Linked DNA regions of Homo sapiens. The protein of the gene in region 3 purifies or fractionates together with the protein of the main gene of each other region. This does not show direct contact. Each region holds a gene or a part of one and is shown on either strand. Other genes may lie near its edges.

What was found.
Region 1: the proteins of POLR3E (region 3) and POLR3B purify together in Homo sapiens (affinity purification with mass spectrometry; 9 studies listed by BioGRID and IntAct, with this or other methods). This does not show direct contact.
Region 2: the proteins of POLR3E (region 3) and POLR3GL purify together in Homo sapiens (co-immunoprecipitation; 6 studies listed by BioGRID and IntAct, with this or other methods). This does not show direct contact.
Region 4: the proteins of POLR3E (region 3) and POLR2E purify together in Homo sapiens (affinity purification with mass spectrometry; 6 studies listed by BioGRID and IntAct, with this or other methods). This does not show direct contact.

What each region holds. Positions count from the first base shown.
Region 1 is NC_000012.12:106,352,962-106,360,771, reverse strand, and holds the start of POLR3B (DNA-directed RNA polymerase III subunit RPC2), read right to left. Parts: upstream 3,025-7,810; 5' UTR 2,893-3,024; coding exon 2,821-2,892; intron 2,663-2,820; exon of another isoform or gene 2,550-2,662; intron 1-2,549. UniProt on the Homo sapiens protein: Catalytic core component of RNA polymerase III (Pol III), a DNA-dependent RNA polymerase which synthesizes small non-coding RNAs using the four ribonucleoside triphosphates as substrates.
Region 2 is NC_000001.11:145,959,821-145,967,703, forward strand, and holds the start of POLR3GL (DNA-directed RNA polymerase III subunit RPC7-like), read left to right. Parts: upstream 1-4,869; 5' UTR 4,870-4,948; intron 4,949-7,883. Other genes in the region: ANKRD34A (ankyrin repeat domain-containing protein 34A), read right to left, coding at 449-1,939. UniProt on the Homo sapiens protein: DNA-dependent RNA polymerase catalyzes the transcription of DNA into RNA using the four ribonucleoside triphosphates as substrates. Specific peripheric component of RNA polymerase III which synthesizes small RNAs, such as 5S rRNA and tRNAs.
Region 3 is NC_000016.10:22,300,394-22,307,429, reverse strand, and holds part of POLR3E (DNA-directed RNA polymerase III subunit RPC5), read right to left. Parts: intron 4,500-7,036; 5' UTR 4,462-4,499; coding exon 4,426-4,461; intron 2,275-4,425; coding exon 2,224-2,274; intron 1-2,223. UniProt on the Homo sapiens protein: DNA-dependent RNA polymerase catalyzes the transcription of DNA into RNA using the four ribonucleoside triphosphates as substrates.
Region 4 is NC_000019.10:1,092,359-1,100,364, forward strand, and holds the start of POLR2E (DNA-directed RNA polymerases I, II, and III subunit RPABC1), read right to left. Parts: upstream 3,018-8,006; 5' UTR 2,958-3,017; coding exon 2,901-2,957; intron 1,721-2,900; coding exon 1,546-1,720; exon of another isoform or gene 1,398-1,545; intron 1-1,397. UniProt on the Homo sapiens protein: DNA-dependent RNA polymerase catalyzes the transcription of DNA into RNA using the four ribonucleoside triphosphates as substrates.

The DNA.
Region 1 (7,810 bases), on a different chromosome or scaffold from region 3:
CCACCAGGTAAGTACTCAGTAACACTGACAAATATTTATTCAACAAGTAACTGATTAATTGGCTCCAAAGCTTGTGTTGTTTCTACCATACTACCATGCTGCTGTGCTACCATAAGCACAAAAAAATACACACCAGGCATGGCCAGTTCAAGTAAAACTGAGCTCCTAACTAGAAAAAGTTGCAGCGAAAACACTGAAGTTGGAAAGTTTAAGTAAATATTTTAATATCTCAATTTAAAAGGAAATGGCAGCAAGTAGCAGAGATCTACCATCTTCTGGGAGAATCAGGAAAGGCCTTCCTAGGGAAGTTATATTATAGATATGTGGGATTTAATCTACAAATAGGAAGGGGAGAGCGATCCAGAAGAAACTGAGCAGAGTAGAAAGATCTCAGGGGAGGGAGAGGGGGGAACCATGGGAAAAGAGACTAGAGAAGTAAGCACTGGTCAGACTGAGGAAATTTATTACAAACATGGTAAACACTAGATTTTGCCCTAAGAGCAATAGGCAGAGATTGAAGAACTTTAACCAAGGGAGCAACATAACCATGTTTGTGTGTTTAAACGGACAGCTCTGGCTGCAGAGCAAGGAACAGACTGGATTGGGACAAGTCAGGTGCCAGGTAGGCCAGTTAGGAAGTAAGAGAGGACAGTCGTTCTGGGCTGGAAAACGGTGGGAATGAAGTTTCAGATATGCATAGATTAAGAACTCAGGACTTTTTAGAGGTGATGGTGGATTGGATACAGAGTGCAGGAAGAGGAACTGTTATTCTTCAATCAGAAGGCTGGAATTATAGCACTGTTCACTTCATAGCTGTGTAAATTCAGATAAGAAATAGAAATCTCCCAGGCTTATTTCTTCAGCTCTCTGGAGAAGCGGTCCGATAGCAGTTAGGGATGAAGACTCGAGTCAGACTGACAAGAGTCCAAATTCCAGATTAGCCACTACCAGGCTTCTAATGCAAGGCTATTTACTTAACATCTTTGGGCCTCTCTGGCAAAATGGGGGTGAAAATAGTACTTATTTCAGAGGATTAAATAACATAATGCATGTTATGGTTAAACAGAACCTGGCACATTAGCAAGTGCTCAGTGAATGCTGGCTCTTTGATATTCACTTTTCACGGTTAAAATACAGTTTTGCAGCCGGGCACGGTGGCTCACGCTTGTAATCCCAGCACGTTGGGAGGCCGAGGCGGTGGATCACGAGGTCAGGAGTTCGAGACCAGCATGGCCAACACAGTGAAACCCCGTCTCTACTAAAAATACAAAAATTAGCTGGCGGTGATGGTGGGCGCCTGTAATCCCAGCTACTTGGGAGGCTGAGGCAGGAGAATTGCTTGAACCCGGGAGGCAGAGGTTGCAGTCAGCCGAGATTACACCACTGCACTCCAGCCTGGGCGACAGAGCTAGACTCCGTCTCAAAAAAAAAAAAAAAAAATAGTTTTGCCTGATGATCAGCAGCCTATTGCATGCACTTATAGACTGAATCTGTTGGAACTGCTAATTCAACTTCCTTAACTTGTCAAACTATTATAAAGAGGTTTTGTTTTGTTTTCCTTGAGACAAGGTCTCAGTCACCCAGGCTGGAGTGCAGCAGCACAATTACGGCTCACTGCAGCCTCGACCTTCCAGGCTCAAGTGATCCTTCCACCTCAGCCTCCTGAGTTGCTGGGACAAGTGCACGCCACCACACCCAGCTAATTTTTGTATTATTTGTAGAAACAGGGTTTTGCCATGTCGCCCAAGCTGTTCTCAAACTCTTGAGCCCAAGTGATCCGCCCGCCTTGGCCTCCCAAACTACTGGTATTACAGGCCACCACGCCTAGCCAAGGAGGTTCTTATAATCCGATAGACTTACTGATCATGTCACTTTCCTGCTTAAACCCTTCAAAAGCTCTGCTCCAAGACAAAGTCCAAGCTCTGTCAGATGTTTATTGAAACTTTTCATAATCAAGACCCTTACTTAACCCTGTCTTTTATCTCTTCTCCTCTATTTTTCTTCACTCTAATACTACTGGATTTACTTTCCTTCCTCAAAAACATCCAATGGTCTTGCCGAGGAGGTTTCAAGTATCCTGTTCTCTTTCCCTGAAATCTCTCCTTTGCTATCTTCTCCGGCCACGTCTCCACTTCCCTATTCCACGTCAGTGTAGATTTTGAGGCTCAGAGAGATTACAAAATGTGCCTTATCAGATAACAAAATATGTCGACAGCCGCACTTCACTGGGCAGCTCGCTGTGGGGCAGCTGTCCTTAACTTCCGAGAAGCTGATGAAAGCTGTGGAGTCTCTCCCCCAGAAAACACACAGGCAAATTCTTTAGTAAATATTGAGGGCGTTTAAAATTCCCCTGCAACCCAAACTGGAACTTCAAGTTAAAAGGAAAGATGACTAGCTTGGAATTCAGACGATCTGGTTTTACCCCCACAGCCGGCTGTGGTGCCTCATGCAAATGGCCTGAGCTCCCTGGCCCCGTGTCCTCTGTAAGACTGCAAACATGCAATACGTCCCCCACAGTAAGTGCGAGGGTCAGTCCTCCCCACGCACACCTATGCTGGAAGAGCTCCAACCCTAGAGCCAGCAGCGGGGCTTCTCGGCCCCCGCAGCGGCTGACAGCTCCTCTGGGATCAGCCTTCACTCGCGCACGCGGAGGCCGGCTCTGGAAAAAAGACTCGCAAGCGCGACGCTCTGGGCATGCGCAGAAGCCCGGCGCATGCGCACAAACCGCCAGCCCGCCCCCTTGGCGGCCCGAGCACTCCGGGCAACGCCCCCTCAGGGCGCATCCTTGTCCCTGACGCTCCCTGCGTGCCTGGCACTGACCTCTACAGTCGGGATCGGCGCCGCCAGCTGCTCCGGAGTCAGGTTCCCAAACTCCTCCGCTAGCACGTCCATGCTGCTCACGAAGGAGGAAGAAACAGATAGAACCTCCGCGCCCGCCTTCCCTGCACCAAGCAAACTGCAAGACTCCCGGCGAACGGTGCGCGGAGGCCTAAACTGTCCCCGCCGTGCGTGTTAGCTAGAGACGCGGTAGAAAGGTTCCGCCCGCTCCCTGCCCGAATCTGCGGTGGAACCCGGATGTGGCCGAGGCCGAGTAAGGAAAGTACGCCCTCTGGTGTAGCTCGGAGGTCTGGCGCAGGGAATCCTAAGCCCCAGCTGTCAGGTTTCTTGCCAATTCTCTGGTAATTGAGACCAGCAAAACATAGTGGTTGTCATTTTAAAAGTAATCCGAAGAAAAGTGTAAACGCATAATTTACGCAACTTGAACCACTGAGGCAGAGAATTATTTAATGTAGTCCAAAATTCTATGCATTGTTTAGTATGGAAGAGCAGGAAACGTCCCAAATGCCTACCAATAGAAGATTGATTAAATAAATGATGGTACATGCGTGTAATGGAAGAGTGTTGAAAATTCTCAAAAGCACTAGATGGAAGATGTAGGAGTAAATACCCAGCGCATGGAGAAATTTAATATGAAAAGATGACATTTACGTTAGTAGGGGAAGGATGGCCTGTCCAGTAAATAATGTTTGAAGAGCTGATTACCCATTTGGGGAAAAAATACATGTAAGTGAATCTTTTGTGGATTAAATATTGAAATGTTAACAAAAACTTAGAAGAAAATGTAAGTGCAGATATTCATAACATTGAGATGTTGAAGACTTTCAAGACGGCAACAGTCAAATCATAAAGGATTTTATAATCTAAACACGATTTTATGATTCCACGGAAAATTTTTAATTTTCTGAACAGATTTTAAAAAATCACCAACAAATAGAATTAATAAAAAATAAATTGGCAGAAGACAAAGGGCTGGTCTCTCTAATTTAAAATGAGCTCATACAAATCAACAGAAAGAAAAATCCTATTAGAAAAAACAAGGCAAAATGCACCAATTAATTAATGGGTACGGAGTTTCGGTTTGGGAAGATGCAAAAGTTCTGTAAATGGAGAATGGTGATGGTTGCACAACAGTGTGAATGTATTTAATGCTGCTGACCTGTACATCATTTTAAAGGGTTAAAATGCTAAGTTTTATGTATATTTTACAACGATAAGAAAAGTTATGAAAATTTGTAAGTACATATATGCTTTCCAATTTCTCCCTCATAAAGGTAGAACCCTTGCACCAGGTTAATTATTCTTATTTACTAAAGAGCTACTTAAATTTCAGTACTTGTATTTTCTTTTTTTTTTTTTTTTTTTTTTTTTTTGAGACGGAGTCTCGCTCTGTCGCCCAGGTGGGACTGCGGACTGCAGTGGCGCAATCTCGGCTCACTGCAAGCTCCGCTTCCCGGGTTCACGCCATTCTCCTGCCTCAGCCTCCCGAGTAGCTGGGATTACAGGCGTGAGCCACCGCGCCCGGCCGTATTTTCTAAGTATTGCACTGATATCTGAAATACGAGAAGAATGGAAAAAACACCAAAAGTAGAATCAACCCTGCCTTTGAAGTTCTTACAATTTACTTATTACAGAGACAAGATACAACTTGTGTCTCATCATTGTGCATTACCAGATTGCAACCAATTTAGCATCTAGCCTAGAAGGGACTGTGAAAGTGATTTATAGATGGCAGAGGATCTCAAGGTTGGCTCAAGTGTGTTGGTTGTCTGTGCCAAAGTCTTCTTTGCTTTCCATTATCAAGGTGATTCTCCGACTTTAGGGTGTATCAGAATCACCTGGAGAGCTTGTTAAACTAATCTCAGCTTTCTGATTGGTAAATTGGGGCTGAAATTTTGCTTTTTTGGTGGGGGGCGGGGATGGAGTCTTACTCTGTCGTCCAGGCTGGAGTGCAGTAGTGCAATCTTAGCTCACTGTACCCTCCCAGGTTCAAGCGATTCTCCTGCCTCAGCCTCCCGAGTAGCTGGGATTACAGGCGCGTGCCACCATACTCAGGTAATTTTTGTATTTTTAGTAGAGACGGGGTTTCGCCATATTGGCCAGTTTGGGCTCAAACTCCTGACCTCAGGTGATCCGCCTGCCTCGGCTTCCCAAAGTGCTGGGATTTCAGGCGTGAGCCACCGCGCTGGCTGCAAATTTGCATTTTTTTTTTTTTTTTGAGACAGAGTCTCACTCTGTCACCCAGGCTGGAGTGCAGTGGCTCGGTCTTGGCTCACTGCAACCTCAGCCTCCTGGGTTCAAGTGATTCTCCTGCCTCAGCCGCCTTAGTAGCTGGGACTACAGGCATGCGCCACCACACCCGTCTAAATTTTTATTTTTAGTAGAGACGGGGTTTCACCATGTTGGCCAGGCTGGTCGCGAACTCCATACCTCAGGTGATCCGCCTGCCTCGGCCTTCCAAAGTGCTGGGATTACAGGCGTGAGCCACCACTCCCGGCCTGCAAATTTGCGTTTCTAGTAAGTTCCCTGCTGTTGCTTTCCAGTGATTATGCTTTGGAAATCACTAACCTAAGACTTATCACTCAATGCCATATCCTCTTTTTATGTGTCTCATTATCCAGACTGAGCTCTTGGTACGGGAACTATCTTGTTTGTCTTTGTGTTTCCAACTTCTAACCCATCAGTTGTTCCTGAATATATTTGTGTTGAATGAGTGAGTTGAAAGAAAAAATGCAACGAATGGGTGATGTTTGATATTATACTCACTTTTTAAGAATCCTGATTGTTTTTAGTTTCTCTTCAAAAGCAGGAGGCTCTGGTAGCCATGGTCCCAAAGTCCTATACGGCAACAATCGGCTAATGCTGAACGGTGTTGGCCCTTAGACCATAGCTGCCACAGTCCCTCATAGTCCTTCCCCCAGATCAAATCTATAACTTCTTTCTGATACCCTAAGGGACTGGAGTTTTGAAACCAAGAAGCCAGGAACAGTCTCAGCATTTCTTTGTTTTCTGCTGCCATGTCCTTTTCCTGAGGTATTAGTACAAAAAGACCAGTGGTTTGAATAGAGGGGTGGGAAATTAGGGAAAAGAGATCACAAGGCTGGGCGCGGTGGCTCACGCCGCCTGTAATCCCAGCACTTTGGGAGCCCGAAGCAGTGGATCATGAGGTCAGGAGTTTGAGACCAGCCTGGCCAACATGGTGAAACCCTGTCTCTACTAAAAGTACAAAAATTAGCCCGAGGTGGTGGCGCACATCTGTAATCCCAAATACTCGGGAGGCTGAAGCAGGAGAATTGCTTGAACCTGGGAGGCAGAGGTTGCAGTGAGCCGAGATCACGCCATTGCACTCCAGCCTGGGCGACAAGAGCAAGACTCCGTCTCAAAAAAAAAAAAAAAAAAAAATCACAGAAGGAAAAATGGTTAACATGTTGGAATACTATCTTATCACTTAATGTACAATGGCTTATGGTAGCCAGATGAAAAATTGACCAGTGCCATGGGGGAATAGGGGATCTTGTTTAAGGGAGAGCAAGGAAAAAGGAAAGGCAGAGGTGTCCAAGCTGGGCCTTGAAATATTAACATTTACCGAGTGTTTACTCTTAGGCATTGCAATGACCACTTGATGTGCATTCTCTAATTGAGTGCTGAACCCCGGGGATAAGTATGATTATCCCCACTTGAAAGGTAAAGAGACTAAGGCTCACAGGGGTTAAGACACTTGCCCAAGCAGAGCTGGAATTTAAATCCATAATTATTTGACCCCAGAACCCATGCTTTTAACCACTCTATCATAACGCCATACCAAAAGCATGGGGTAGCGGAAAACGTTTCAAGTAGGGAAACACAGCGTGAGCAATGGCATGAGGGCATTAGAGTACATTATACCACATTCTGACAATTGAGTGTGGTTCTCACATAGGGCTTTTCAAGGGACGTGTCTGTAGATGACACTAGAAAGATCCACTGGAGCTGTACCATCACGGACTGTTATGCCCTGTAAAAAAAATTAGACCATGCTCTGAGAGGCTTCAACATGAAGGTGCTAGAAACAAAAGAAAAAGATTATCTTCCTTTCTTGAAACCTTGATGCATTCAGACTGGGAAAAAAGATACATATGGTTCTGATTTCTATGTCTCAATTAATTCATAATAGAACTAGAGAAGACCAGAAACAATGTCAGAGAAAGAATAAGGACTCTTCAGTCTCAAAAGGCAACAGCAGAGGGAGAGCCCTTGAAGTCAGAACATTCTGCATTTTAGGCAAGACTGGATAGTCCAAAAACTTTCAGCTGCCTGCCATGCCCCCAGACCTTTCTTTGTGGATGTGATCTTATTATCCTATCAAAACCAATAGGGCCGGGTACCTGCCCAGGACAGCCATGTGGGCTGGATTTAAGGGATGAAGTGGCTTATCATGAGAACCCTATCTAATGTGGGGTTTGTGGGTCATCTAAACTGACACGTGGCGAGCAAACTCAATCGTATTCCCTCTCAGGACACGTTTAATGAAGACACCCCAAAGGGGAGGGCAGCAACAGAAGCTGAGAAGTAAATGCCAAGTCAGCATTTGGTAACAGCACCACAGAGATATCTTTTTTTTTTTTCAGATAGGGTCTTGCTCTGTCACCTAGTTCACTGTAGCCTTGAACTCCTGGGCTCAAGCAATCCGCCTGCCTTGGCTTCCCAAAGTGCTGGGATTACAGGAGTGAGCCACTGCGTCTGGCCTGAGAAATACTTTTCTTTTCTTTTTTCTTTCTTTCTTTTTTTTTTTTTTTTGAGACAGCATCTCACTCTGTCACCCAGGCTGGAGTACAGTGGCGCGATCTCGGCTCACTGCAACCTCCACCTCCCAGGTTCAAATGATTCTCGTGCTTCAGCCTCCGAAGTAACTGGAATTACAGACCTGTACCACCACACCTGGCTAATTTTTGTATTTTTAGTAGAGATGGGATTTCACCATGTTGGCCAGGCT
Region 2 (7,883 bases), on a different chromosome or scaffold from region 3:
GGAGAGAGTGTGCAAAATCATGATAGGCTGTGTTTCAGGGCATACATGGAAAGCAAGGGATTGCTTCTGCAGGAGGGCAAAGACATCGGAGACTGCCCATAAGTAAGGGTTCCCTACTGCTTCTGAACAAATGCAAGAGAGTTTGGGACCCTAGCCCTGTGTGTTTATTGATATGCTGTGCCTGTAGGTACACAAGTAATCCCATATGCATGTGAAATGACCAGGGCATGAATACATGTGTGTATATACCCAGTAAATAGAGTACTTATTCTTTCTTGCTAATAAGAGTACTGTGCTTATGGACACATGTTTAACCATGTGTGGGTGCACTGTGCACCCATGAGCACATGCAAGAGATCCCTTTGTTCGTGGTGTGTGTGTGAGCTGGTTCTCCCACCTATCCCATTAAGGTCCTAATCCCCACCCTCCTTGGCTCCTCTCACTCCTCTCAGCGCCCTGGCTCCCCAGGCCCACCTAGACTCTGGAAGCCCCCCAGCAGGCGGATCTGCTCAGTCTGCATGGAGTGGCGTCTCACCAATTTGCGCTTGGTCCTGGGAGAGCCTGGCGCCCCGGCATAAGGAGGGGCAGGCAACGAAGGCGCCCGACCTCCGGGTTGTGGGCGAATGTCAGGGATGGGAGGGTGGGGACTGACGTTGAGAGGGGGTAGGAAACCCGGCCGCGTTTGCGAGATGTGGTCCAGGAGCAACGTCCCCGAGCCCCTCCGCTCCAGCAGCCCCGGACTCCGCCTCCTTCCGCTTAGCGGAGATACTGCCCCTGGCAGACTCTCCTGGGACTGGCGCGGAGAGGGAGCCGAGCCGGCTGGAGGGAGGGTCAACGGGGAGGCGCTGTATCGGCGGCGCTCCAGGGACAGGCGGCTGGACTCAGGCGAGTCAGGGCAAAGGTGTCCAGGGGTGTCCAGCTCCACTGGCTCCATGCGGCTCAGTTTCTGCCTCAGCCCTGAAGGGGGACCAGACTCCTGAGCTTCTGGTGCTGTGTTTCGGCGAGAGAGAGGACCCCCGCTAGTCACTTTCTCCGCCCATGGGGGCGGGTCCTCAGGGCCTTCGGTGCTGTGACGTCGGGAAAGACGGGGTCGACCGGTCAGGGTCAGGCCATTGAATTCGGCAGTCAAGCGCTCGATCCCCGGTCTCCCTTCAGTGGGTGGGACTGGTTGAGGAGGGGCCACTAGGCCCCAGGGCTCGGAGTTGAGCCTTTTGAGTGGTTTTGGGGGATGGCGTGGTGGTTTGGGGAGCGGCTCGGAAGGGGATGGGTCATCGGGGGGCTTAGGAAGAGGGAATTCAAATACGTCCCGCTTCTCCTCTTCTTCCTGGGCGCGAGGGGATAACATCCCACGCCCTCCTCCTCCAGCGGTCTGCAGTTGGATTTCCGAAGGCGACGTGCAGAACCCCGGGCTAGGAGAGGCGGGAGCAGGGTCCTCCACCCCTGGGGATGGTGGAGAATTGAGATACTGCCGGGTCTTCTTGGTGCCTGAGGGCGAGGTATCGGTGGTGATGATGATGACCTCCGTACCCTTGGCCTTGCAGGCGTCCAGCAGTGTGGCAAGGGTCTCGCGGTCCCCGCGGTCCAGGGCGTGGACAAGAGCCGAGGCGCCCGCGTGATCTCGGACTGAGGGGTCTGCGCCGTGGGCAAGGAGCAGCGAGGCCACCGCGGCGCCCCCACCCCCGGCGCAAGCGTGCATGAGCGCCGTGCGCCCTAATCGGTCTGCGATATTGGGGTCCGCGCCTTGCTCCAGGAGGTAGCGTACCATGCGTGCCTTGTTCTGGGGGTCGTCGTAGCGGGCCCGACAGGCTGCCATTAGCGCAGTCTCCCCCTGCGCATCACCCTCATTCACGTAGGCGCCTCCCTCCAGAAGCAAACGGGCCAAGCGTAGCTTACCCTGACCCACCGCCCGAAGAAGAGCGTGGCCCTCGGTGTGCAACATAGCTGCGGCTGGGGCGAGGGCACAGATGGAGCCGGGACTGAGACCTGCCGAGGATGACTAGGGGTATGGGGAGGGGGAGTGGCTGGCAGAGGCCTGAGGTCTCAGTGACGAAGCCGATCCCTGCAAGAGAGACATCTCATTGATAGATTCGGCAGGAAAACTGAGGCACAGATGCAGGGACCCAGCGTGGGGTGGAGGAGACCTTCACGGCATACAGTCCTTCCTCTAACTCATGCCTTTGAGCCGGCCCTTCCCCCGCAGCGCATGCCTGAGGAGGTGGGAAGGGTGCACCCGCACTGAAGGACTAGCGCGCGTGCAAATGCGTTCGTGCACGCGCAGGGATGTCCGCACCCCCACCCTCACCCCATGGCTTATCAGACCTTTCCTCTGTCCCCCTTGTCTTATCCACACTTGGGATCCCCCTTTCTAGGATGCTGAACGCCACCCACCCACATACATGCACCCTACAGTCACACATGTATTCTCATTCCTAACCTGTTTTAGCTTGCCACAACCCCAAAAATTGAGTGGGGGGAGGGAAGCAGCCTGCATTTGAGACCTAAAACGGGTGGAGGGAGAATTGGGGGGTTCTATTGCCCCTGCGATGTTCCCCATCACTCCTTGCTCTTTCCCCTCCCAGGCTGTGTGCCCAGATAGATACCTGAATGTCCGCAGAATCTCCGCCTGGCCAGGATTGGGGCCGTGGCCACGGGGCAGCCGAGGTGGCGGAGCCAGTTTCCTGGGGGCCCGCATGGCGTGGGGGGGGGGGCACCCGGATTCCCTTGGTGTCAGTATCTGCGCCCCGGCGCCGGATCCTGGTCCCTCCTCCCGGAGCGCCCCGGGCACAGCGCCGGCTCGGGAGGAGAGAAGCTTGGCGGGGGGGGGGGGGGGGGGGGGGGCGGAGCTCTGCTGTGCTATTTATAGCCTAGTCACTGCGGGTGGGGGCGTCAGGCACCAAACTGCTCCCCCACTCATGCACACATAAACCCTCAAAAACCTAGAGGCTCCAATCCTGACTTCCTTTTCTCAGCCGACCTCCCCTCAGCCCCAACAAACCTAAGTGTTCCTTAGGGGACTCCTCCGCGACCCAGACAGGGACCATCATCCAGATTCTTCGCTGAGATTCAGCAGATCCCCATTCTCCGCACTTGGTGTGTTTGTGCGCTCCTGTGCGCCAGACCTGACCTGCCATACACGGCACATGGCACACTGTGTAAGAAAGGTGTAGAAAGGCTTTTTGGATCCACAGCCGGTGTCCATACTGTGCAAAGAGAGGCAAGAGATGTGGCTTTCTTCCTGTAGTTTAATTGTGAAGGAGATCACGGTCCAGCCTGGAGTCAGACACAGATACACCCCCGCCCCATCTCTCAAAAACGGAACACCCATCGCAGAGAAACTTGGACCTCAGCTCCCTTATGTAGACCTCTTAGATAAGTATGAGGAAGGTGGATATGGGAGCACTTTTAGATAAGGCAAGGGACATTCCAGGTGCCTCCACCCCGTATTATTGTGGGCAGGGAGATAGGACAGGGGCAGGAAGAAGAGCGAACCTTGTAATACACTCTCTCACATTGCATCTCTTTAATCTCAGTCTTGCTTAGACGTCTTATTTTTTCCATCTTGCTTGACGATCTCTGTCTGAAACATTCCTTATATCTTCTCTCTTCCTATCTGTCTATTGGTCTCTCACACTGTCTCTGCCTCTCCTTGCCACCTGCCCTGTCTCCATGGTTACCATAGCTTCCATCCACATATTTTAGGAATGAGTTTGTGTCCAGCTGGAAGGCACCAAGGGAAGTGGGAGAAAAAGAAAAATCCTAAGGATTTAAAAAGTTCACTCAGGGTCCTGAGCTAATTCAGAGGCTGGAGGCCCCCCAGATGCAAGATACTGAAAATAATGTTCCCGGGGATGGGAGAGAGAGAGAAATATTTGCAGGAAGCTACCCATTTTTACTAGTTATTTCTTGGACACGTGTCAACTATGTGCCATGTGCTTTACATACACTATTTTCAATCCTCACAACTTTATAAGATAGGAACTATCATCTTCTTGTTACAGATGAGGAAACAGACTTAATAAGGTTAAGCAAGCTCTCCAAAGCTTCACAGCTATGTTTCTGTCCTATGGCAAAGACTGGGAGCTTGCCACTACACCTACAGCCTCCCAGTCTACAGGCCATTTTCTCTGACATCTGGGATGTTCTTCTTGACTAACTCCTAGATTTCATCTCCATTCTGAACCTTTCTCCCTTGTTTCTGCTTTCTGTGAAAATAGGACTCCTCCTTCCACTCTGCTGGCTTTCCCAAGGAGCTCGCAGGAAGTGGAAAGTAGTGGAAAATGCAGAAAAAGCTGGGCTCCTGCCCTGTCTCCCCAACCCTGGTACGCTGATCCCAAATCCTTCCTTTCTTGAACCCTCTGCCCACCTTCTCACAGACACGGCAGCAACCCACAGAAAAACATTTTTAGAAAAGAAGTATCCATTGGTGGTGCTGGAGAGAGGCAGTGTATGATTGAAAGGAAGGCTGGAGTAATGGAGAGACCAAGCTATGAAGCTAGAGTCACAAAAAGACTGATCCCTAAAGAGCAGCTTTTACAGAGGTTCATTTCTCCGTAGGCCCTCTCCTCCTTTGGCCTCTCTGTAGGGGCTCCCTCAACACGGTCCCTCGATGAGATATGAGTGTCACGTTCCCTCGGTGAACTCTCGCCGGCTAGTGGCTCCTTCATCTGGAGTGAGACCGGAAATAAGTGACCCCAGCTGATTCTGCAACGCCCATCTCTCTCTGCGACCCGCTTCGCAAGCTTCGGTTCCGGGCGTACTCGCTCCCTCCCTCCTTCTCTTCCTAGGCTTCAAGAGGGCGGACTTCCCTCCTCGGCTTCTCCTGCATTGGCCGAGAAAACTCACCAATAGGGAGCTCCGGGAGGCGGGCTTAGAACGCCACCGACTTGAGGAAGCCCAGTACATTTCAAGTTGGTCGCGGCTTGGGCTCCGCTTTGGGGAGGGGCAGCAGGTAAGGCTTGACCTGGTTCGGTCCGACACTTGCCAAACTTGTTCACCCCGGCCAGGCTGCGAAATAGACAACGCTTTCCGTCAGGTTGTTGGATCAGCCCCCTTCTGGCTCCCTACCGTTTCTCCCCTGGGCTTCCATTTCTGTATTGATTGTATACTAGAGAATGGCAGTTTTCTATCGCGCATGGGGAGAGACATTAAAGCAGAAAACGAGACAGCCTCTTGTATCTGTCTTTGCTATAGCATCAACTTCCCCCTAATCTATTAATATTATCCCAAGAGCCTGACAAACTCCTGTTATCTATGAAGACTAGCTGAAATGCTACCTGTAGTTTTCCTGGGCCGCCTTTCTTGCAAAATGAATTGTTCCCCCGTCTACGATAGCGTTTTGTATATACCTTTATTAGGACACTTAGTGCACTGTCTCTCTTTAACGTTTCTATGCCTTTTAGAATAGAAGGTTTTGTAGGACAGGTGCTAGTAGTTAATATATAGTGCCCAATAAACGTTAGTTAAATAGAATTGATTTCTGGTAACTAGCACTCTTTTTGGGGAGGCAGAATTTAAACTCCTAACATAACTAGGGAACAATAAAAGACAATACAGTATGTAATTAAGAGCCATTAAATTAGTGGTTCATAATATTAGTGTTTCATAATTGTTTCTACAATCTAGAGAAGGAAGAAAGCAAGGAGAACTGGAATGGTGAGGGGAGGCTTTATGGATCACAATTTCTCAAGTTTGGAAAGGCCCATAGAAATGATGTATTTATTCATTCAATAAATATTTATTGAGCACCTACTATATGCCAGACACAATGCTAAATCATGCTGATCATAGGGAATCCTCTACTAGAGCCATGCATCCTTCTTACAAACCCTATGTAGTAAATTTTTACCCAGCTTCTATGTAAACATCTTTAGTAAGGGAACTCTCTTATCTCTCTTGTAGATCATTCAATTTTTTGATACCTGTTCTTTAGTCAATATCCTACAAATATTCTAAATAAGAAATATATAGCTAAAGGAAATGCATTCCACACTTCCACTGTAAAAGAGGGAAATATGGCTGGGCACGGTGGCTCATGCCTGTAATCCCAGCACTTTGGGAGGCCGAGGCGGGCAGATCGCCTGAGGTCGGGAGTTGGAGACCAGCCTGACCAACGTGGAGAAACTCTGTCTCTACTAAAAATACAAAAATTAGCTGGGCGTGTTGGCGCATGCCTGTAATCCCAGCTACTGGGGAGGCTGAGGCAGGAGAATCATTAGAACCCAGGAGGCGGAGGTTGCAGTGAGCTCAGATCGCACCATTGCACTCCAGCCTGGGCAACAAGAGCAAAACTCCCTCTCAAAAAAAAAAAAAAAAAAAAAAAAAGGAAATCTGTCCTTTTACAGTGGAATTGGTAGCATTCTTAAAAGCAAGCCATTTCTGGCTGGGCGTGGTGGCTCATGCCTGTAATTCCAGCACTTTGGGAGGCTGAGGTAGGCAGATCACTTTAGCCCAGGAGTTCAAGACCAGTCTAGGCAACATGACAAAACCCTGTCTCTACAAAAACTACAAAAAAAATAGCCAAGCATGGTGTCTCAGGCCTGTAGTTCCAGCTGCTCAGGAGGCTGAGGTGGAGGGTTGCTTGAGCTGGAGAAGTCGAGGCTGCAGTGAGCCAAAATTGCCACTGCACTGCACTTCAGCCTAAGCGACAGAGCAAGAACCTGTCTCAAAAAAAAAAAAAAAAAAAAGAGGCCGGGCGTGATGGCTCATGCCTGTAATCCCAGCACTTTGTGAGGCCAAGGCGGGTGGATCACGAAGTCAGGAGTACAAGACCAGCCTGACCAACATGGAGAAACCCCATCTCTACTAAAACTACAAAAAAAATTAGCCAGGCATGGTGGCGCATGCCTGTAATCCCAGTTACTCGGGGGGCTGAGGCAGGAGAATCACTTGAACCCAGGAGGTGGAGGTTGCGGTGAGCTGAGATTGCGCCATTGCACTCCAGCCTGGACGACAAGAGTGAAACTGTCTCAAAAAAAAAATAATAAAATAAAAAGAACATAAATAAATAAAATGGGTATTTTTTAACCATTCATTTATTGTTAGATTGTTTCAGTTATTTCAGAATTTTTGCTACCATAAATAGCTCTTTGATGAATATCCTTTTACTTATATCTGTGACTGTATATCTGTTGATGTCTTTGGAATATATTTTTAAAGTGGGATTGCTGGATTAGGGATATAAACATTTCAAAGGCTGTTGATTTAACTGGACAAATTGCTCCCCTTGAAATATTATGTTTATAGTCTTTCCAGTGAGGTATGAGAGTGTCCATTTGAAAAAAAACTCATGACAGCCTGCTTATTATTTAAATCTTTGTCACTTTCATAGGTGAAGAGTGGTTTTATTGGCCATTCTCTCTCCTTTTTTTTTTTTTTGAGACAGTCTTGCTCTGTTGCCCAAGCTGGAGTGCAGTGGTGAGATCTCAGCTCACTGCAACCTCCACCTCCTGTGTTCAAGTGAGTCTCATGCCTCAGCCTCCTGAGTAGCTGGAATTAAAGGTGTGTACCACTGTGCCTGGCTAATTTTTTGTATTTTTAGTAGAGACAGGGTTTCTCTATGTTGCCCAGGCTGGTCATGAACTCCTGGCCTCAAGTGATCTGTCCACCTCGGCCTCCCAAAACCCTGGATTACAGGAGTGAGCCACCATGTCCAGACATGGCCATTCTCTTTGCCAGTTGCCTGTTCATGTCCTTTGCCCATTTTTTCTATTGAGATGATTTTTTAAAATTTGGATTTCCAAGATTTTAAGGGTGTTAATTTCTTGCTTTATTTATTACATGTATAGCAAATTCTACACATCAGCGTGCCCCAGGCCTCAGTGCCTGGATTTCTTATTTTCTCTGTCCACATCCACTCCTTTAGGGGTCTCACCTAGTCTCATGGC
Region 3 (7,036 bases):
GAATGAGCCTGGTGGAGGTATGGCAGTGCGGAAAATAGGCCCTTTCAGATCAGCTACATTCTAGCGCAAGGAGACGGTCATTTCCTAAAAGCTCACTCACACAGCAAAGCCGTGACTCCTCCCTGCTTCCTGGGCTGGGGCTGGGGGCAGTTCTGAGATCACCTGACTGGGGGTGGGAAGGCTGAAGGGCGCAGGTTCTGAAATCACAGGCCTGGCTTCCAGTCCTCATCCTTCCCCTTGCTAACTGTGGACTCAGGCAGGCACCTCGCCTCCCTGAGGCTAAGCATCCTCACCTCCCAAGGCCGCTGTGAGCACGGAGGAGGCAAACAGAGCCGATGGTGGCTCAGGGTTTGGAACTCTGGACACACGGGGGTCACTGGCACCTCCACCATCACTTTGCAGCCAGTCAAGGAAACAGGGTGAGCAGGCACACAGGACAGGCCCCATTCCCACGGCCCATAAGGGTGAACCCCAGGGAGTGGAGGCCAGGCCCTCCCAGCACAGGCTTACAACATTGCTGCTGTGGCATGCCCCAGGCCTCCGTGCCCGTGAAGGCCTCCCTGTGCCTCACGTTCTCATGTGCATCATGGGATATGAACACTGACTCTAACTGTGGGAAGGCAACATGGGGCAGAGCAGCCCAGCAGTGCCTCAAAAAGCTAAACGCAGACCCAGCAATTCTGCTACCAGGCATATACCTAGAAGAAATGAGAATTCACGTTCATCATAAAAACTTCTATGTGAATGTCCACAGTGGCATTATTTATAATAGCCAAAAAGTAGAAATAACCCAAATACCCATCAGCTGATGAATGGATAAACAAACTGTGGTCTCCCATACAATGGAACATTATTCATCAGTAAAAGATCAAATATTGGCTGGGAGCGGTGGCTCACACCTGTAATCCCAGCACTATGGGAGGCCGAGGCAGGCAGATCACAAGGTCAGGAGTTCGAGACCAGGCTGGCCAACATAGTGAAACCCCATCTCTACTAAAAATACAAAAATTAGCCGGGCTTGTGGCGCGTGCCTGTAGTCCCAACTACTCAGGATGCTGAGGCAGAATCACTTGAGCCTGGGAGGCAGAGGTTGTGGTGAGCCGCAATCAAGCCACTGCACTCCAGCCTGGGCAACAGAGCAAGACTGTGTCTCAAAACAAACAAACAAAAAAAAGAAAAGCTCAAATATTGATGCAGGCTATAGCTACCATGTGGATGAGCCCTGAAAACATCATGCAAAGTGAGAGCAGCCAATCACAGCAGGCCACATACTGCATGATTCCAGCTATGTGAAAAGTCCGGAATAGGCAAAACCATAAACAGAAAATAAGGGGAATGGTTGCCTGGGGTTGGAGGTGGGAATGGGGGGCACAGACTGATCGCTAATAGGCAAGGGGTTCCTTTAAAGGGGGACAAAACTGTCCCAAAACAGACTGTGGCGCTGGTTGCACAGCCCCATGAGTAGACTAAAATCCATTGCATTACACACTGAAATGGGGAAACTGTGTGGTGTGTAAATTCTATCTCAATATATCGGTTATAAAATGTAATAATCACCACCATAGGGTTATTGTGGGGTTAAAGAGGTAACTGAGGTAAATGCTTTCAACAGTCTGCATACGGTCAATGCTCAATACATGTTGGCCACAATGACAAGCTGCTGGCCCAGCAGCAAGGGGAGGGGGCAGAGGTAGCAACCCGGGGCCCTCGCAGCTGGCAGGACTGAGGGCTCACAGACGCTGCCATGGAGCTGCCCCTTGGAGCCTCCATGACAACAGCGGCCATCATCACTGGCACCAACTCTCTGCCAGGCGGCATCCTAAACACTTCACTGTGGACTCAGCCTGTCCTCCTGGGGACCTATGAGGCAGGCATTATCACCATCACCACTTTGCAAGTGAGGAAAGTGAGGCACAGAAGGATTAAGAAACTTGCCCACGGTCTCGCAGCTATGGTGTGATGGAGTTGGATCTCAATCCGGTCTGACCCCAGAGCCCCAGCTTTAACTGCTGCACACTTCTGCCTCTCCTGTGTTCCTTCAGTTTTCCCATCTTTGAAATGAGACCAATATTAACCCACCCACGAAAGCAAAGAGACCCCATGACACTCTCCACACCGAGAACCCTAGCTGAGGTTTCCCATCGTTTCCTGCCCGTGTTCCTGAGTCCACACCACCCACCCACACCTGCTTCTCCCCTCTTTACCTTCAAGTCCCATAATTACCTGAAATAGATACAGCTTTTCCGCCAGACTCTTGGCCAAGTACACATCGATCTGGGAAGAAGGGAAGACGACTTAACCGGGAGACTGGACACAGTGCTGACCTCCCCGGGCTATGCCAGCGCTTCCAGCTTCAGTTAAGGGCAGTGGCTCAGGGAAGCAGTTTGGGGAAGGAGGAAATAGCTCAGCTCATGCTAAAAGCAAGCGGATCCAAGGCTGCACACTGGGTATATTCAGGAATCCCTCCTGAAAGCTCCCAGGGGAACCAGGGCAAGAGTTCACCTGGTACCCCCACCCAAGTTCACAATCCCCCAGTAAGCACACATCTTCCCTGGGGCTGCACTGATCGGGAAACGTCCTACAGCCTGGGCAAATGCTCTTCTGAGAGGCAGGCAGGCGAGGGCTCACCTAGGCCTGTGCCTCCTGGCTGGGCCCTCCACCTGCCCCTCCTGGACCAGCCTGTCACCCCTTCTTAAGGGGTCTGCAAGGCCCTTTGTGACTGATGGCTCCACTTCCTTTCTTCCCAACACTAACCACCCCCACCCCGCCACGCAGCAGTTTACCTTCCTGCTTCCTAACTCCTCCTATAAACCACATGCTCTCCTACCCCTGGGCCTTTGCACATGCTTTTCCCTATACCTACAGAGCCCTTCACACATGCCTCCCCTGAGCCTTGACTGCTCGCTCCTCCAAGGACTTGGCTGAGGCACAACTTGGGCAGGAAGCATTCCAGGCCCCCTGGCTGCAGAGGGCACTGCCTCTGTCCTCGGAGTCCCTTGGACTCTTCTATCCCATCACCAACCCCCCTGTTGTAACTCCTGCTACTGCAGTGTAGATGCAGCTTAAATGCATCTAAATAACTCACATCTAATAACTTAGCAACATCCCCCAAGCAAGGAAAAACCACCTCTATTCATCTCCGAGGACCTTCTCCTTGCCCCTGCCCTTCCCACTGGAGGTCAGGCTCCGCATATAAGGAGGCTGAAGGCAGATGCAGTTACTTTTTGCCTTTTGCCTTCCAAAGGTCTAAGTCCTGGGTTAAAAGGATTCTGAAAGGTGAGTTTGACTATCAACAGCTTTCTCTAAGAAGGGAAACCTGTGCCGGCCATGGTGGCTCATGCCTGTAATCTCTGCACTTTGGGAGGCCCAAGGTGGGTGATCACTTGAGGTCAGGAGATCGAGACCAGCCTGGCTATCATGGTGAAATCCCATCTCTACTAAAAATACAAAAATTAGCCAGGTGTAGTGGCGGGCGCCCGTAATCCCAGCTACTCAGGAGGCTGAGGCACAAGAATCGTTTGAACCCAGAGGCAGAGACTGCGGTGAGCCAAGATAACACTACTGCACTCCAGCCTGGGAGACAGAGTGAGACTCCGCCTCAAAAAAAAAAAAAAAAAAAAAATTAGTCGGGCGTGGTGATGGGCACCTGTGATCCCAGCTACTCAGGAGGCTGAGGCAGGAGAATCGCTTGAACCTGGGAGGTGAAGGTTGCAGTGAGCCGAGATGGCACCACTGAACTCCAGCCTGGGCAACAGAGCAAGACTCTGTCTCCAAAAAAAAAAAAAAAAAAGGGAAATCTGCCTCCCACTGCCTGTACCCGGAGACTCCTGCCTCATCAGTCTTGCCCACAGCCCATTAGCTTCCCAGGGAAGGGGACCCTGCCCTGCTCACTGATGTGTCACAGCCCCCAGCACACAGTGGTCCAGTGAACAGCTGCTGAATGACTACATCTGCGTAAGCCTGGGAAGGAGGGACTGCTGAGCCCATTTATTCATTCATTCATTCACCAAATAGTCGCCGGGTACCTGGGTGCCAGGCACTATACTCGGCTTTGCGGCACAGCAGTGGACGGGAAAGAAAGCAATCAACTGATATCTAGGGGATGACGGGGGCTAGGCCAAGTATGAGTTACCGCCAAGGTAAGGGCAGAGAGAGGCACGGGAGGGTGCAGGAGGGGAGCTGGGTGTGGAAGGGCAGTCAGGGAAGGCCTCCCTGATGAGGTGATGCCAGATCAGAGACCTGAAGGAAGGGAGAGGTCAGCCACGCAGGGGTCTGGGGGACAGCAGAGGGGACCAGGCAGAGGGAACAGCAAGGGTTAGGGGTCCCAGAACATCAACAGGTCCCAGACTGGCCTGAGGACACATGGAAAGGACCCAATTCCACTGCCTGTAGCCCCGGCGGCAGGGGACAGAGAGCAGCAGTTACCTCCTGTACAACTGGGTCATCCTCTTCATTGGCCATACTAGAGGAGAGCCAGCCGCGCAGTCCTTCAGCTCGATCTGCAAAGGAGGGCGAGAGACTGGGACCATCAGTCGTTCAACCAACATTTCCTTGTGCCTATTCTGCAACAGGCCCTGCACTGGGAGGGGGAGCCCACAACCAACCAACTGACCTTCTTTCTACATCTACATTGAAGTCAACAATGGATGACCAACCCTATACCCCATCAGCCAGAAGAAATAAAGAAAAAAAGAAACACTCAAGCAGCGGGTGCAAGCGGGTAGACCAAGCCAACAAGTGTGGGCTGCACCTGCGGGGAAAGGCAAATGACTGGCTTTAATGGTTTCTTCTCTGCTCACAGAGAATTCACTGCCAGACAGAAGGATAGAGGTTGGCTGGTCCCAGCCATGATTAAAACACTGGAGAACTGAGGGCCCTGGGGACGCTTTAAAGAGGAGCCAGAAGTTGAACAGGAAGACAGACAGTCCAAAGCTCTCTGATATTTGATTTTCAAGCTGACTTTAACTCGAATCCTGAGTGAGATGACTCTTCTGTGTTTTTGGTCTAAAAATGACCTCTTCACACACTCTTCTGTCCTGTATTCAACACAATGACCCTATGAGGTGTGGTGATTGTCACTGTTTTATAATGAACAGACTGGAACTCAGAGATACTGTGTGCATTTTGACCCAAAGTCACATAGCAAGCAGGATGATGAACTGGACTTCAAATCCAGGCTGTCTGACCTCAGGTGACAGGTACAGGTAGGGGAGTTGAGAGGCGGGAAAGGCCTTTCTGCTGGGGAGGAGGCACGTTAGGTGCGCCTGGAAGAAGAGAGAGCTTTGGGCAAGTCATGACAACAGAGGGGAGGAGAAATTCCAGGAAGAGGGAAGGCTGTAGGTCTCCACGGGGCAGGTTGAGTATTTCAGCTGGTCTGCCCCTTCACATACCCAAAGAGAAGAGGGGTGGTCATAGGTAGGATGGTACTCAGGCACCCCCAGGCCTCAGCAGTTCCCAAACCTCTGCTCTTGGGTGAGACTAGCATGAATTTTTTTTTTTTTTTTTCTTGAGACGGAGTCTTGCTCTGTCACCCAGGCTGGAGTGCGGTGGTACGATCGGCTCACTGCAACCTCTGCCTCCCGGGTTCAAGCGATTCTTGCCTTAGCCTCCCAAGTAGCTGGGATTACAGGCATGCACCACCAGGCCCGGCTAATTTTTCTATTTTTAGTAGAGACAGGGACTTGCCATGTTGGCCAGGTTAGTCTTGAATTCCTGACCTCAGGTGATCTGCCCGCCTTGGTTTCCCAAAGTGCTGGGATTACAGGCGTGAGCCACTGCGCCCGGCTGAGACCAGCATGATTTTTGTCTGATCTACTTAACATTTGAACTATCTAATATTTATTTATTTTTAAGACATGTCTTGCTCTGTCACCCAGGTTGAAGTGCTCTGCCGTGATTTTGACTCACTGCAACCTCTGCTTCTTAGGTTCAAGTGATTCTCCTGCCTCAGCCTCCCAAGTAGCTGCAATAATTGGCATGCACCATCCGCTCAGCTAATTTTTGTATTTTCAGTAGAGACGGGGCTTTGCCATATTGGCCAGGCTGGTCTCGAACTCCTGGCCTCAAGTGATTCACCTGTGTTGGCCTCCCAAAGTGCTGGGATTACAGGCATGAGCCACCACACCTAGACAAAAGCCAAAGTCTTTATCATCCCATGTAAACCCTAAACAATCTCCTGCCCCTTGACCTGCCAGACCTCATCTCCCACAAGCCTCCTACCCTCCTCTCTGCTCCAAACCCACTTCTGGGGCTTTGTAGCTGCTCTACCCCCCCGATAACCTCATGGTCCCCCCTTCACCTCTTTCCGGTTTTTGCTCAAATGTCACCTTGTGGCTAAGACCTTCCCTCTCCAAATCACATTGCAAACTGCCTCCCCCACCCCTCAATTCCCTTCTCTGCTCTGGTTTTCTCCATAGCAGGTGTCTATCACCATGTGACAGTTTACAGCTCTGCATCTGTGCCCATCTCTATTGCCACTAAGCTGTAAGCTATGTGAAGGCAGAGATTTTGGTCTATTTTGTCCCTTGTGGTACCCCAAGTGCCTAGTACACAGCAGGCACTCAATACATGTTTGTTGTCTAAATAAATGAACCATGGGAATGCTATTTAATAGGAAGCTACAGAAGGATTTCGGGCAGAGGAAGACATGGAGCGGGTAGAAAGAGAAACTTCAGGGAAACAGCTATCGTAACAGTCCCAGAGATGGAGGATGGAATGAAAATCAGGAGTCGCATCTGGACAGTTTCAGTGCATCTCGACTGTCTGCTGTGCAGACAGAGGGCAGTGTAGAGCGGAGAGCCCAAGGCCTCACCCCATCTGCACCGGCTGCCAAGTGCCACAGATATGTCAAGCTCCTGCCTTCTCTGCAGCTGGGCAGTGGACAACTGAGAGGCTGGGGCCTGGGAGGTTCCCAAGACGCAATTGTTCTTTCTTGGCTATTGCTATGCCCTGTTGGCCTCTGCCCTGCCAGGGATCAGGGAGGCTGAGGTGCCCTGTCAGCTAGAGAGCTGGAGCTCCTTCCTCTGGATAGTACATC
Region 4 (8,006 bases), on a different chromosome or scaffold from region 3:
AGTCAACAGTTCTAAACCGGCCTGGCCAACATGGTGAAACCCGGTCTCTATTAACAATACAGGATGGGCGCGGTGGCTCGCACCTGTAATCCCAGCACTTTGGGAGGTCAAGGTGGGCAGATCACGATGTCAGGAGATCGAGACCACCCTGGCTAACAAGGTGAAATCCCGTTTCTACTAAAAATACAAAAAATTAGCCCACGCCCGCAGTCCCAGCTACTCGGGAGGCTGAGGCAGGAGAATGGCGTGAACCCGGGAGGCAGAGCTTGCAGTGGGCAGAGATTGCGCCACTGCACTCCAGCCTGGGCAACAGAGCAAGACTCTGTCTCAAAAAAATTAATTAATTAATTAATAAACAATACAAAAAGAAAAAGTAGCCAGGTGAGATGGTGTATGCCTGTAAACCTAGCTTTTTGGGAGGCTGAGGTGGAAGGATTGTTTGAACCTGGGAGGTGGAGGTTGCAGTGAGCTGAGATTGCGCCACTGCACACTCCAGCCTGGGTGACAGAGGGAGACTCAGTCTCAAAAAAAAAAAAAAAAAAAAAGACTGGGCGCGGTGGCTCACGCCTGTAATCCCAGCACTTTGGGAGGCCGAGGCGGGCGGATCACCTGAGATTAGGAGTTTGAAAGCAGTCTAGCCAACATGGTGAAACCTCATCTCTACTAAAATGCAAAGAAAAACTAGCCAGGCGTGGTGGTGGGTGCCTGTAATCTCAGCTACTCAAGCTGAGGCAGGAGAATCGCTTGAACTCAGGAGGTGGAGGCTGCAGCAAGCCGAGATGGCACCACTGCACTCCAGCCTGGGCGACAGATTGAGACTCTTTTTCAAAAAACAAAAACAAAAAAAAAACAAAAAAACCCAGCAGCGTCACCAGGTCCGGTTGGCAGACGTGCTCCGTCACCCCACTGATTAATTCTGGGCGTGGGGCTGCGCCCCTAAGGCGCTTGCAATCCCCCAACCGCTGAGGGCTTTAGAGCCATACTAGGGAGGCAGACAGGTGCGGAGACTTCCGCAAAGCAGGTGCTGAAACCGAGGGTCCCAGGGGTCCTGGGAAAAGAGGCCCGAGCACAAGCTCGAGGGACGAGTACCGGACGCTGACAGGGGAGAGGGGGCATGGGGTGCGGAGGAATGGGCTGGGGCGGGCAGGGGCCGCAGCTCACAAGGAGGCTGCGCTGACCCAGACGGGGCCTCCTGGGCCAGGCCAAGAAGCTGGAAGTGCACCCAACGGCCAGGATGGGGGAGCCAAGGGACACTAGGGCAAAGGACATGGGGGGCTGGGGGTGAGTGGGGAGGCCCTTGTGACTCTCCTCGTTGGCAGGAAGAGAGAAGGGGACTGAGAGGGAAACTAGAAAGAAGCTGAGCATGAGAGGGGTCAGAGATCAACGGCATCACCCACAGCAAGGAAGGGGAGGGGAGTTTTCCTCCCAGACTGGGCAGAGAGACAAATGCTGGGCACCAGGCGAGTGGGGGTGGGTGCTAGCGACCGGCTCCTCGGCAGGTGCTCTGGTGGCTTCACCGGAACTCCCCCGGGACCCGCTGCTCACCTGGAAAGAACACAAACATCTGGTCGGTGGGGTCATCGTTGTGGGCCACCAGCACGGTGAGGTCCGTGCGCCGCGGCCGCCCCTCACTCGGCTTGTCCCCAGATTGGGCTTTGAACTCCTCCAGGGTCTGGTCAAGCTCGTCCTGGGTCACCAGATAGCCACGGTCGTGGCACAGCTGCAGAGAGAAAGAACCAGCTGACCCCAGGGCAGAGAGAGGAAGGCGGCCAAAGCTCGTGACCCGGAAGTCAGACCTGCGGCTGCTGCAGAGGACAGAGGTGAACAGCAAACGGGATGAACACTCACTGTGTGCTCCATGACAGCCACCCCGGCCCCCACAGCCTCACACCACAGGATGGGACCAGTATGATCCTGAGAGGCTCCCAGAGATGTCCAGCCTTGACCAAGACCGTCTGTCCACCCAGCCTCACAGAAACCTGGCAGGGAGCAAAGCCCTCCAAACCACTTTGCAGAGCTACCCTAAAGGCAGGGACAAAGGCGGGGCGCGGAGGCTCACGCCCGTGATCCCAGTACTTAGGGAGGCTGAGGCAGGAGGGTTGCTGGAGGCCAGTTCAAGGATGCAGTGAGCTATGATTGCACCACTGCACTGCAGCCTGGGCGACAGAATGAAACCCTATCTCTTAAAAAAAAAAAATGACAGGGACCGAAACAGATGTGACTTCAGGCTGACAATGTTTGAGGATCGGAGAAAGAAGAATCAGGCTGCGGGGGGCTTCGCTGAGGACAAGGGCAAAGGGTGGGAAGCAAGACAAAGCAAAAGCTCTCAAACGGCCCCAATGGCTGAGGCAATACCCTGAACCGCAGGTCCTCAGGCCTGTGCCCGGCTTCCAAACCGGACTCGACCCAGTGGCCTCCATCTGCCCCAGACCCCAAGGCACGGGTTCCGAGCTCCACGTCCCCATCGAAAGCCCCAGCTCGCCCGCTGCTTCCCAACCACCAACTCTGCCAGCCTCGGATGCTGAAGACTCCATGGGGTTCAGGACGCAAGGACAAATAGCGACGCTGAATCACAGAGAAGGGCAGAGTCTGGGGGCGCCCCCCGTCCCCATTCGCGGCTTCCTCCTCCTCTCGCCGCCACGCGCGCCGCACCAGCCCAAGCCGCCCACCCACCCCTAAGCACCGCACCCAGACGTCTCGAAACCCCCTCCCTTCCCCGCTGCCGGCTCAGGTCGGGTCCAGCGCCTGGTATCCCCGGCGACCTCTGGGCCTCCCGTATCGGCCCGGCCCTTCATCGCTGCTGCTCCGACGAGAGTACGAGGAGACGCCGTGCTCGACCCCACCTCGGGCCCCTACACCCGCCGCCCGCGCCCCCGCCCCCAACACCAGGCGCGGCTCACCTGCATGATGGTCTTGCGGATTTTCCAGAGCCGGTACGTCTCCTCCTCGTCGTCCATGGCAGCCTCCGCCGCCGCCGCCGCTCGCACCCCTTCTCCGCGCGAGAACCCGCGCGGACTGCGCCTGCGCCGAATCCGAATCAGGCCCCCTCCGCCTAACCCCGCCCCGCGCTGGTCTGTCGTCGGCGAATGCCTGAATGCAGCAACGTCTCGGATCGGCAGCGCCAAGGGCAGCCCGAGCCTTACGAGAGCGGCAGTTGGCTGAGCGAGTCTCTCGCCTCCGTAGTTCTCGTGTGTCTTTGGCCGCACAGCCTCTCGGGAGTTGTAGTTTCCGTTCAACTCCCACCTTGGAGCAACAGTTTAGAATCCCACGAGGCGGGGGCGAAGTGTGAGCGGGGAAACTGAGGCCTGGATGGGGTCAAGGGGCAGCTCGGCTCCTAGGGATGGTCTGGGAGCCTAGTGGGAACTCTATAAATATTTGTGCATCAAACTGTACAGGGTTTCCTCCATTGGCTCCTGGCCAGGTCAGGGTTAATTCCCTTGGGCCTCAGTTTCCCTACCTGTGCAATGGCAATAAAGTGTCCCTACTTTAGACGGTTAACTGAGAGTCTTAGGCATCTCTCTAGGTGCTTATTAAGTCCCCTCACCTCTGTCCTCTCCCCTGAGCGCCACCAGCCTAGCCTGGGTATCTCCCCAGCCTAGCCTGGGTATCTCCCCACCCCAGACTCTTCCTGTCTTTGCAAACCTCCTCACTTCCCCAGGTTCACGGAGAACCCCAGCCCAACACTTCCTGTGTGCAGGCTATCAGTAACTTATTCAGTGATGCATTCGTTAATTCAACATTTACTCAGCAACCTACAGTGATGGTGAATAAAACAGGCCAAGTATCCCTTGCATTCAGATAAAGACAGGATTTAGTAAAATATAATAAATAACGTGGCCGGGCGCGGTGGCTCATGCCTATAATCCCAGCACTTTGGGAGGCTGAGGCGGGCAGAGCATGAGATCAGGAGTTCAAGACCATCCTGGCTAACACGGTGAAACCCCGTCTCTACTAAAAATACAAAAAATTAGCTGGGCCAGGTGGCAGGTGCCTGTAGTCTCAGCTACTTAGGAGGCTAAGGCAGGAGAATCTCGTGAACCTGTAAGGTGGAGGTTTCAGTGAGCCAAGATCGTGCCACTGCACTCCAGCCTGGACAACAGAGCAAGACTCTGTCTCAAAAATAAAATGAAATGAAATAAAATAAAATAAATAACAACGTTAGAAAGTGACAAAGCTACGGAAGAAGAAAGAGCAGGGAGGCTAAGTGACATGGGGAGAATGGGAGAACTGCAGTATCACATGGGGAGGTCAGGGAATACAGTGAGGATAGATTCAAGCAAAAATCCCATTAGCAGTGGTGGCTCATCACTGTAATCCCAGCACTTTGGGTGGCCGAGGCAGGCAGAGCATGAGATCAGGAGTTCCAGACCAGCTTGGCCAACATGGTGAAACCCTGTCTCTACTAAAAATACAAAAATTAGCCAGGTTTGGTGGTGGGTGCCTGTACTCCCAGTTACTCGGGAGGCTGAGGCAGGAGAATCACTTGAACCCGGGAGGCGGAGGTTGCAGTGAGCCGAGATCGCACCACTGCACTCCAGCCTGGGTGACAGAGCAAGACTCCATCGAGAAAAAAAAAAAAAAATCCCATTGGGCGCGATAGCTCACACCTGTAATCCCAGCACTTTGGGAAGCTGAGAGGGGAGGATCCCTTTGTTGTAGTTTTGTAATTTTTAGTTGTAAGTCACGGACTTTTTTACACTGATATTTGAGATTCTTTTTGGGGGGCTGTCAGGGGCTACTTTTTTTTTTTTTCCTGACACGGAATCTCGCTCTGTCCCCCAGGCTGGAGTGCAGTGGCAGGATCTCGGCTCACTGCAAGCTCCACCTCCCGGGTTCACGCCATTCTTCTGCCTCAGCCTCCCGAGTAGCTGGGACTACAGGCACCTGCCACCACGCCCGGCTAATTTTTTGTATTTTTAGTAGAGACGGGGTTTCACCGTGTTAGCCAGGATGGTCTCCATCTCCTGCCCTCATGATCCGCCCGCCTCGGCCTCCCAAAGTGCTGGGATTACAGGTGTGAGCCACCCCGCCCGGTCTGTGCAGGCTTTCTTATCTAACTACCTAACTTTTCTTTCTCACCTTGAGGCCAGGAGTTTGAGACAAGCCTAGGCAACATAGGAAGACCCCATTTCTTTTTTGTTGTTGTTGTTGTTTTTTGAGACCGAGTCTCGCTCTGTTGCCCAGGCTGGAGTACAGTGGCATAATCTCAGCTCACTGCAGCCTCCGCCTCCTGGGTTTAAAGGATTCTCCTGCCTTGGCCTCCCGAGTAGCTGGGATTACAGGCGTGAGCCACCACACCTGGCTAATTTTTTTGTATTTTTGGTAGAGATGGGGTTTCACCATGTTAGCCAGGCTGGTCTTGAACTTCTGACCTCAGATCATCTGCTTGCCTCGGCCTTCCGAAGTGCTGAGATTACAGGCGTGAGCCACCGCACCCGGCCAGGAAGACCCCATTTCTACAAAAAAATTTAAAAATTAGCTGGGCGTGGTGGGCGCACCTGTAGTCCCAGTTACTCGGGAGGCTGAGGTGGGAAGATCTAGGATCGCCTGAGCCCAGCGGTTGAGGCTGCAGTGAGCTGTGATTGCGCCACTGCACTCTAGCCTGGGCGACAGAGCAAGACACTGTCTCCAAACAAACAGAAAACAAACAAAAACCAGAAGAGGAGAGGGAGGAAACCTGGGGTTGCCTGGGGATAGCTGTATCAGGCAGACAGCACAGCCAGGATAGAGGCTCTGGGGCTGTGCCTCACCTGGAGTGTTCCTGGCAGGGAAGGGGCAGGAGGGGGTCAGAGGGCAAGGTGGGGCAGGTCCCATGAAGCCTTGCTGGTCAGGGTAAAATGTCTGGAGCTGCTGTGTTGGGAAATGACTGTTGGGAGCCAGGGCAGAAGCAAGAGACCAGGGAGGGAGTGGGAAGGCAAACTTGCCACAGGTTGGGGTGGCTCCAACTACGGTAGGGGCAAGCACAGAGCGGGGAGGGTGCCACAGGGCGAGAAAAAGAGGGAGAAAGGGAACAAAGCTGTCCCTGTGAGCAGTGAAAAGAGGGGTGGGAGGGTGGAGGCGTGTAGGTCGAGGTGAGCTCTGGAGTTCAGGGCAAGGTCTGGGGGATGGACGTGCAGGCAGGGTGGCCACGTGGTGAAGATTAGAGCCGGGAGCCTGGACCAGGTCCTGGGAGCAGAGCAGAGTCCAGGAGAGTAAGTCCAGCCCTGCTGGTGTTCAGAAGCCCGGAGAAGGAGGGGAGGCAGCAGCAGGAGGGGAGGGAGGCTCAGCACAGACACTGGAGCAGCCCCTGAGCTGCAGACCTGGCTGTGTGATCTCAGGCAGGTTACTCAACCTCTCTGTGCGTCCCCTCTCCCCTCCCTTGTAAAACAGGGACAAGAACAGCACCCACTTCGTAGGGTAATTGGCTAATAATTGCAATGTACACAGAGTGGCGCCTGACACCAGCACTGCATAAGTGTTCCCTAAATAGGATAAAGGGCAGGAGGTTGCCAGGTCTCCTGGAAACCTGGTGAGGAAGGTGTCTAGGGGCAGAGGGAAGGGAGTGGCTATGTGATGCCACCGCCAAGTCAGCCTGAGGACTGAGCAGGGATTCGCCTAGCAGACATTGCTTGTGACTCAGGGAAGGGGGCCAGTGCCTGGCAGGACGGATTTGAGGGAGGAGAGGAATTGGAGATGTGGGGCAGATACATGGGGCGGGGAGGGTCAGGAGACGGACAGGCCTCAGGAGTGGATTTTATGACACAAGAAAGGGCATCTGGAGTAAAGACCAAGCAGTGACCTGCAAATCTGGGGGCAGGGGTGGACTGAGAGGCTGAGCCCAAGCCAGGGGCGGCCTGGATGATAACAGCAAAGCCAGAGGCCCGGAAGTCAGGCCATGATCCACACACAGGGCAGGTGAAAATGTAAGATGGTGCAGCCGCTATAGAAAGCAGTCTGGTCGGCCAGGCGCAGTGGCTCACGCCTGTAATCCAAGCGCTCTGGGAGGCTGAGGCAGGCGGATCAACTGAGGTCAGGGGTTCGAGACCAGCCTGGCCAACATAGTGAAACCCCGTCTCTACTGAAAATACCAAAATTAGCCGAGCATGGTGGTGCAGGCCTGTAATCCCAGCTACTTGGGAGGCCGAGGGAGGAGAATCGCTTGAACCTGGGAGGTGGAGGTTGCAGTGAGCCGAGATCGTGCCACTGCACTCCAGCTTGGGCAAAAAGAGTGAAACTCCATCTCAAAAAAAAAAAAACAACAAACAGTCTGGTGGATCCTCAAACTGTTACACAAAGAGTCACCATATGACTCAGCAATTCCACTCCTAGGCATACACCCAAGAGAAATGAAAACATACGCCCACACAAACACTTGTACGGCTTTACAAACTCAAAAAGAGAAAACAGCCCATAGCCGGGCATGGTGGCGCATGCCTGTAATCTCAGCTATTCAGGAGGCTGAGAAAGGAGAATTGCTTGAACCTGGGAGGCGGAGGTTGCAGTGACCTGAGATTGCGCCACTGCACTCCAGCCTGGGTAACAGAGTGAGACTCTGTCTCAAAAAAAAAAACCCCAGATGTCCATCCACAGATGAATAAATAAACACAATGTGATCCCTCCACACACTGGAATATTTCTGAGCCATGAAAAGGAATGATGAGGCTCTGACACAGGCCACAATGTGGATGTAGCCTGAGGACCTCATGCTCAGTGAGAGAAGCCAGGCACAAAAGAACACGCAGTGTGTGATCCCATTTCCATGAAATGTCCAGGACAGGCCAATCCACAGAGACAGGAGGGGATGTGTGTGTGCCAGGTCCTAGGGGAGGAGATGGAGAGTGAAGGCTGATGGGGTCTGGGCTTCCTTTGGGGACAATGAAAATACTCTGTGCTGGGTGCGGTGGCTCACGCCTGTAATCCCAGCACTTTGGGAGGCCTAGGCAGGCGGATCACCTGAGGTCGGGAGTTTGAGACCAGCCTGACCAACATGGAGAAACCCTGTCTCTACTAAAAATACAAAACTAACT